Linked DNA regions of Homo sapiens: all the other regions are linked to region 3. The links come from fine-mapping of genetic effects on gene expression. A gene starts in region 3. Each other region holds a variant in brackets. All regions are shown on one strand. Distances are from middle to middle.

The links. PIP is the estimated chance that this variant, and not a neighbour inherited with it, causes the effect.
Region 1: its variant is the best candidate, but not a certain one, in a credible set for the expression of PPM1K-DT in prostate (GTEx, PIP 0.84).
Region 2: its variant is the best candidate, but not a certain one, in a credible set for the expression of PPM1K-DT in sun-exposed skin (GTEx, PIP 0.89).

What each region holds. Positions count from the first base shown.
Region 1 is chr4:88,323,727-88,326,489 of GRCh38, reverse strand. The region is part of intron 3 of PPM1K-DT (PPM1K divergent transcript); the gene reads right to left. Among named protein-coding and RNA genes, the nearest start is that of PPM1K-DT, 40 kb to the right of the region's middle. The variant C/A (reference allele first, on the strand shown) is at 1,428.
Region 2 is chr4:88,338,728-88,341,490 of GRCh38, reverse strand. PPM1K-DT (PPM1K divergent transcript) reads right to left here. Exons shown (of 5, transcript NR_134238.1): 4 at 539-629; 5 at 1-188. Among named protein-coding and RNA genes, the nearest start is that of HERC6, 39 kb to the left of the region's middle. The variant C/G (reference allele first, on the strand shown) is at 1,497.
Region 3 is chr4:88,283,610-88,286,372 of GRCh38, reverse strand. It overlaps PPM1K-DT (PPM1K divergent transcript), which reads right to left and starts at 1,443. Exons shown (of 5, transcript NR_134238.1): 1 at 1,312-1,443. It overlaps PPM1K (protein phosphatase, Mg2+/Mn2+ dependent 1K), which reads left to right and starts at 1,812. Exons shown (of 7, transcript NM_152542.5): 1 at 1,812-1,967. RefSeq lists a silencer at 1,450-1,669 and enhancers at 1,404-1,927, 1,840-1,929, 1,970-2,029.

The sequences.
Region 1 (2,763 bases), 40 kb before region 3:
TTACCCAAAACTTAACTAATAGCCTACTGTTGACTAGAAACCTTACTGATAACATAAGTTAATTAACATGAATTTTTTATATGTATTATATAGTATATTTTCACAATATAAAATAAGCCAGAGAAAACAAAATGTTCTTATGAAAATCATAAGGAAGAAAAAATATATTTACTATTCATTAACTGGAAATGGATCACCATAAAGTCTTTATACTCAACGTCTTCACATTGAGTAGGCTAAGGAGGAAGAGAAAGAGGAGAAGTTGGTCTTGTTGTCTCTAGGGTGGCAGAAGGAGAAGAAAATCCATGTATAATTGGACCCATGCAGTTCAAACCCATATTGTTCAAGAGCCAACTGTATAATATAGAGTAAAGACGGTTAGAATAAGGGTAAGCATAGGAAACTATAAGAGATCCTTTTCATCTGACATATATGAAAGTGTGGGAGTCAGGGAAGTCTCCTTGGAAGGATGACATCTAGAATATCCTCATCTAGACTAGCTGAGCAAACATTTCACGCACAGAACTGTACAAGGCTATTCTGACACAGAGAGATTTAAATCATACCCATGCACAAGCTCTCTCACATAGAGAAGTCTGAACAGGCCTGAACCATAATTGTGAAATCACATTTAGCATTGGGCATAGAGAGCTAAGGAAAGCCCAAGATCCAAAGTTGTTCACTCACAATATCAAGTGGTAGAGGGTGACATTAAAGATATATGTCAGGACTCCTGTTGTAAGTGAGAGAAAGCCAACTCAAATTAGTTTAAATTTAGAAAAAGATTGATTGGCTCAATACCTGAAAGTTCAAGGAGTGAGCTTTGGGAAAGGTTTGATTCAGGCACTCAAATGATGTTAACAAGACGTTGTCTTTCTCACCCATTCCTAGGCTGTCTTTCTTCTGTGGCAGTTCCATTCCCAGGCAGCTACGTGGTGACTTCAAGCTTATGATTCTAGTGCAGCAAGTCCAACAGAAGGAGGGTGTGTGTGTGTGTGTGTGTGTGTGTGTGTTTAAAGACGGTGTCTTGCTGTGTGGTCCAGGCTGTTTTTGAACTCCTGGCCTCAAGCAACCCTCCTGCCTCAGCCTCCCAAAGCACTGGGATTGCAGGCATGTGCTACCATACCTTACCAACAGAAGTTTATCCTAGTGCCAGGATTGACCACTCTGTCTTAGCTTGGTTTGTGGAAACACCTCTGAACCAATTATTGTGGCCAGGAGAATTTGTTACTCCTCTAAGGCTGGCCTAGATAACACTCTTACTTATGGAGCCAGTGAGTAGATTTAACTCCATCTGAACTACGTAGTAGAATACTGGGAGGGAATAGTTCCCCCAGGAAAATAAGAAAAATAAAGTACTTTTAGTAGAAGTAGGAATAAACATTGGGCCTGAAACAAACAAATAAAACAAAACAAAACAGTTATCC[C/A]ATACACAGAGATTGAGAGAAAACATACTCATGTTTTTGGAATACAGTCATCTGGGTGGCTCAATTTTATAGAGTCCTAAACACTAGGTGCTACAGAAGATGCAAAGATAAGCAAGAGATAGTCCTTACTCTTAAGGAGCAGTTGTCTACAATTTGGCCCTCAGGTCTGACATCACTCATCTCTCGAATCATGCCATGAGAATTTCTTTTTCTTTTCTTTTTTTTTTTTATTTTTGAGACAGAGTTTCACTCTTGTTACCCAGGCTGGAATGCAGTGGCGAGATCTCGGCTCACTGCAACCTCCGCCTCCGAGGTTCGAGCGATTCTCCCGCCTCAGCCTCCCAAGTAGCTGGGACTACAGGCACGTGCCACCACACCTGGTTAATTTTTGTATTCTTTCAGTAGAGACGGGGTTTCACCATGTTGGCCAGGCTGGTTTCAAACTCCTGACCTCAGAGGATCCGCCTGCCTAACATTTGGTATAGCCACTCCTCAAATACCTTTGCCTGAAGGAGGCAGGATGACTACGTAAAATAACATTTAGCAGGAATCCCAGGACTCTAATGATTGCAACCTCATGTTGCTAACATGATCTTGTAGAGACCAAGGGAAAACTTCCCTTTTACCCTCTGAAGTTTCACTGAAAAATCAACTGATGAAAGGAAGATTAGTAAGAGAAAAGGTATATACAAATGTATTGGCATGCATGGGGGAAAAAAAATCACAGATTGATTACTCCAGCCCTCCAATGGGGATGCAGAAGCTTATATACTATCTTGAAGTTACACAAAGCCTGGGAGCTCAGAGCACGACCAAAAACACGTTAAGGTGGTAGTTAAATCAGGTCATAGTGGCAAGACAGGTTATGGGTGGCTAGCAAAAGTGGCCTTGTAGATGAAACTTCACAGATAGTAGCCATCAGAGAAAATAGATGGTAACATTTCTTTTAGACCTTTAAAATATCAGACTCTCAGTTAATCCTTCCTAGATCAGATGCGAGATGGCTTCAGAGAAAGCTTGGCTGCACCAATGCAGCTGTTTCTCTGCAGATGCAAATTTCCTCCTACAAAAGACAGCTTTTCAGCTATTCTTCCATTTCCAGCCCTTCTATTTTATTTTATTTTTGAGACAGGGTCTTCCTTTGTCACCCAGGCTGGAGTGCAGTGGCCCAATCTTGGCTCACTGCAACTTCCACACACACAATCCCACAAGGCTCAAGTGATCCTCCTGCCTCAGCCCTTTGAGTACTGGGAACTACAGGCGCGCGCCACCATGCCCGGCTAATTTTTCTATTTTTTGTAGGGTTTCGCCATGTTGCCCAGGCTGGTCTCGAACT
Region 2 (2,763 bases), 55 kb before region 3:
AGGATTGAGGTCATCCATCTGCAATCTCATATCCTCTTGCTGGGTTCTGTCAAGTATTAGTCATAAGGCAGTCAGCTTGCTTGTGTACACTTCAACAGCTCTTTTTCACATCAAGCCTTCCAGTTGTCTCTGCTTATTTTAGCCGGGTGCTCAAAGTAGCAGCTGGTTGCCTGGCTATTCCTAGGCAGCTGAAAGCATTGTGAGGAGAACACAAATGAAGCAGGAAGGAATAATCTGAGCTTGATGCTAAGATTTTTGTCTAAGACCTTCTGACCAGGGTCTGTTTCCTAACTGCAATCTGTCCAAAATGTTACTTCCCATCACTCCACATATTATAGCTATCTGATAATTATTAAAATCTGAATATCAAAGTCATTTTTGTATGGAGGGAATAATTAACATATGTACCTTTCCAATATGGCCTTAAATACGCCCCCAAATTCCTTAGCTGTTAATTTTTTTCTCCCACCCTAAAATATAGGTATTTTTAATATTTACCCTGCCCATTTAATAGCAATAAGAGAAGTACATCAGTTACCTAAGTCAGAGATCAGCAAACTTCTTCTGTATAGGGCCAGATAGTCAAGCTTTGTGGGCCACACATTCTCCAATACAATTATTCAGCTCTGCTATGGTAGCATGAAAATATCCACATAATACGTAAATGAATGAGCATAGCTGTGTTCCAATAAAACTATTTATACTGTGGTATAATTTTTAAAAATCTATATTTAATTTCTGCCCTGGTTCCCATCATACAGCTCCTAAAATATGAGGCATTTCTAGAGTGGTAAGAGTATCTTTTGTACACTAATGAGATGACTGGTGGCCCCTAAATAGCTTCAGGATGGGGATTGGTCAGAAAAACTAGGGCATGATTAGAGAGTTGGAACTTTTAGCCACATTTCTTAATCTCTAGGGAGGGGAGACAAGCTGAAGGTTGAGCTGATCACCAATGGTCAACTGTAGGACCTAGATTTTAGTATCTGTGGGAGTCTTGGAAATAATCCCCTTCGATTACTATAACCATAATCAGTCATGTCTACATAATGACCATAATTACCCAAAAGGACTGAGTTGGAAAAGCTTCTAGATAGCTGAACTCATGGAGGTGCCTGGAGGTGGTATATCCGAAGAGGGCATAGAAGCTCTGTGCCCTTTTTCACATACCTTGCCCTATTCATCATTTCCATCTGGCTATTCATCTGCATCCTTTATACTATTTATTTATTTATTTTTGAGATGGATTCTAACTTTGTCACTGCACCATGAGTGCAGTGGTGCAATCTCGGCTCACTGCAACCTCTGCCTCCCAGGTTCAAGCGATTCTTCTGCCTCAGCCTCCAGAGTAGCTGGGATTACAGGCACGCGCCACCACACCCAGCTAGTTTTTGTATTTTTCGTAGAGACAGGCTTTCACTATGTTGTCCAGGCTGGTCTTGAACTCCTGACCTCAAGTGATCTGCCCACCTCAACCTCAAAAGTACTGGGATTAC[C/G]GGCAAGAGCCACCATGCCTGGCCTGTACTATTCTTTATAATAAACCATTAAATGTAACTAAAGTGTTTCCCTGGATTCTGTGAGCCACTAGCAAATTAATCAAACCTGAAGAGGTGGTTGAGGGAACCTTGATTTATAGCCAGTCAGAAGCACAAATAACAACCTGGGGCTTTCTTTGTTTTTTTTTTTTGTTTGTTTGTTTTGAGACAGCGTTTCACTCTTGTCCCCCAGGCTGGAGTGCAATGGCGTGATGTTGGCTCACCGCAACCTCCACCTCCCGGGTTCAAGCAGTTCTCCTGCCTCAGCCTCCTGAGTAGCTGGGATGACAGGTGCTTGCCACCACGCCCAGCTAATTTTTTGTATTTTTAGTAGAGACGGGATTTCACCATGTTAGCCAGGCTGGTCTCGAATTCCTGACATCAAGTGATCCACCTGCCTTGGCCTCCCAAAGTGCTGGGATTACAGGCGTACGTCATCACACCTGGCCCTACAACCTGGGGCTTTTAATTGGTATCTGGAGTGCGGGCAGTCTTGTGGGACTGGGCCCTTAACCTGTAGGGTCTGATGCTATCTTCAGGTGGATAGTATCAGAATTAAATTGAATTATAAGACACTCAGTTGGCGTCCACTGGAGATTTGCTTAGTATGTGGAGAAAAACCTTTACACATCTGGTCACAGAAGTGTGCAACGGTGAAAAACAGTTTGTGCTTTCAAATTTGAATTTCATATAATTTTCATGTGTTACAAAGTATTTTTTTCATTGACTGTTTATAATCAGTGAAAAATATAAAAATCTATTCTTAGCTCAGAGGCTATACAAAAATAAGAGGGGAGGAAAGCAGGCCTGATCTGGCTCATGGGCCATACTTTCCCTACCTTTGGCCTAGGTTGGCAAACTGTAAACTTGAGGTTACAGTTATTAGAACCTAATATCCAATGTGATGGTATTAAGAGGTGGGGCCTTTGGGAAGTGATTAAATCATGAGGCGTTCACCTTCATGAAGGGAATTAATGCTCTTATAAAAGAGACCAAGGAGAGTTTGTTTGCCCCTGCTGCCATGTGGGGACACACAGAAGGCACCATCTACGAAGAATGGGCCCTCACCAGACACCAAATCTGCTGGTGCCTTGATCTTGGACTTCCCAGCCTCCAGAATTGTGAGCAATACATTTCTGTCATTTGTAAATTGCCCAGTGTAAGGTATTTTGTTTTAGCAGCCTGAATGGACTAAGAGAGTAAGCATATATTATTTATGCATTCTGAA
Region 3 (2,763 bases):
ACTTAGGATATGTGCACTTTTTAAGACACATGTTTCAATAAAATTATTATTTTTTTAAATTCCACGCCAGGTACAGTGGCTCATGCCTGTAATCCCAGCACTTTGGGAGGCTGAGGTGGGTGGATTGCTTGAGTTCAGGAGTTCAAGACCAGCCTGGGCAACATGGGGAAGCCCCATCTCTACAAAAAATATAAACATTAGCTGTGTATGGTTGAGCGTGCCTGTAGTCACAGCTACTTGGGAGGCTGAAGTGGGAGGATCACTTGAGCCTGGGAAGCAGAGGTTTCAGTGAGCTCAGATAGCGCCACTGCACTCCAGCCTGGGCAGGAGTAAAACCCTGTCTCAAAAAAAAAAAAAAAAAAAAAAAAAAAAGAAAGAAAGACAAAAGAAAAAAAAATCCAGGAAGTCTATGAAAAGACATCAACTCAACATAATATTACTCAAGGTTATTACTATAATTTGTGAGCCGTCAATATGAGAGTCACTCTCTAACCTGGTTATTAAATGCACTGGATTCAAAACAGTTGTCCCTGGCCTAGAATAACTAAAATGCCAAATCAAGTTAATTATTTATCTTTAAAATCTCTAATCTCTCTGCTCTTCTCTCCCTTCAGTGATATTGTCATAGTTTAATCAAAGTCATCTTCCACCTTAAATTTCATCTGTCATCATCTCCTAATCAGTTTCCCAATAGCTTATTTTAACTGTTCTTTGCACACTAACCAAAGTGATGTAAAGTCTAAACCCAGACCCTTTCACTTCTTTTTTTCGAATGCCTCAATAGAAGCCCATTAAATTTAAAATGTAATGCCAACTCCAAGCCCCTGTCTGCCTCATCTCTCTCACATCATGCTGTTCTTTCCCTCCCTCAATATGCTGGAGACACTTTGGCTTTCTTTCTGTTCTTCCAAAACGCCGGGCTGTCTCACCGAGAGACCTTTGTCTGCTGTCCCCTCTGCCCAAAACAATTCATCATTTTATTGGTTCCATGGCTGAATGACTGATGGTTTAAATGCCATCTTATAAAGTTCTCATATAACAATCTTATCTGAAGTTATCCTCCAGTGTCCACACCATGCCTATTTCTTTCCTTGACATGATTAATTACTATTCTATGTGCTTGCTTACTTGTTGGTTTTCTCCCTCTTCTTTGTTAGACTGAAAATTCTATGAGGGCAGCTATCGTGTCTAGCTGTGTTAGGGGCGTATCCCCAGTGCCTAGCAAATGTATAGCATACAAGACGTCCTTCAATAAACACAGAAATACTTGTTTAATGAATTAATAGACATTCCCTAAAGATCACAAGATACCTGTTCAGCCACGAAGAAGACTGCACTGTGCACTGCTGTTCAAAGACATGGCAGTGAAATCAGATGCCTTTCAAACTCTAAGCCTAAGCAGTATTGGCATTCCGTTCTCGGTTTCCTGGCTGTCACAACTACAGTCCCTTAGCCCGAAGCGAAACCCCCTCCGCGCTCCGCCCGCTGGCTAGGTACCAAGTCTCGCGGCCCCACCCACCGCGCAAGCGCGCCCCCTCTTTGGCTGGGGAGCTAACCTCGGGAGGGCGGGGCGCCGCCGCGAGCCACCACTGGCACAGGGTGACGTCGCTCCGCCGCGCAGCTGGAAGCCTGCGAAGTCAAATAGCAGCCGCGGGGAGGCTCGTTCCCATCGGCATCTGTGACTGGCTGCGATCGAGGGCCCGGGCGGCCGGCCAGCCGTCTCGCCGAGTGCGGACTGGCCGGATCTGCTGTCAGTCAGCGGGAACAGACTTCTCCCTCTCCATCTGGTCAACTGCGGGAGAAAAATTTTCGAGAATTTCCAGCAGGCAAGGCAGTGGCCGCTTTGACTGCTTGCTTCGGAGATCCGAGACGACGGAGAAGGCACTCTTATTTACCGACCAAGAAAGCTCCTCCCCCGTCCTCCGTTAGCTAATTAAAACATTTTTCAGGGACGTAGCCATCCAGAGGTAAGAGCCTAGAGAGTGCAATTCATTTATTTCTGCTAACCATGTATGCTGTTCTTTATTGGCGGTCGCGGAATGGAGAGTAAACGGAGAAGGGTTTCCCGGGAGGTCGAAGGGGAGACGTCGGTTTCCGTTCCCCCGCCCCCCGAGTCGGCGCTTGGCCGGCGGCCTCTCGGAGTTCTCAGAGCGTCGCTTTCTTCCCTTTGGAGGTCGTGAGCAGCTCGTCGGGGTGAGGCGGGGCCCAGCTGGGCTGCCTGCGCCCCGGGCGGCGGGTTTCCAGCCCAGACTGCGCTCGGCCTTGAATGTGGCCGCAGGCTGGAGGGCCAGCGCGGCGCGAGGCGGGCAGGGTGGGTGGGCTGGGACTGGAGACCCTTGCCCGAGGCCCCGGAAGCGAGGATGCTGCGGGGTGGGTGCCGCGTTGCCTCCCGGGCGAGGGAAACGTGGCGACAACGGGCTCGGTACGCCCAGAGGGAGGTTGGGAGGCGGAGACCTGGCGGCAGAAGGTGCCGAGGGAGCCCAGCTATTTGCGAGGCTTCGCAGGCAGGCGGGCGTGTGTTCTTCCCACCGTGTGTCACCCTGACCACCCGCCTGTCAGGGCCAGCGAGCCGAGGCCAGGATCCTGAGCTGTACCCAGGTGAGCTTTTCAGGAGGTCCGGCATCGTGAAGGATGCACAGCCCCGGCTGGTTTTGATCCGAAGACTTGGGTTTTACTTTGCGCAGGGAGCGCTGTAGTACTCAAGGCGTTGTAGCTGGTGATGTCTTTTTCAGCAGCCGCTTTCTGTAGATGAGGGAATTCACC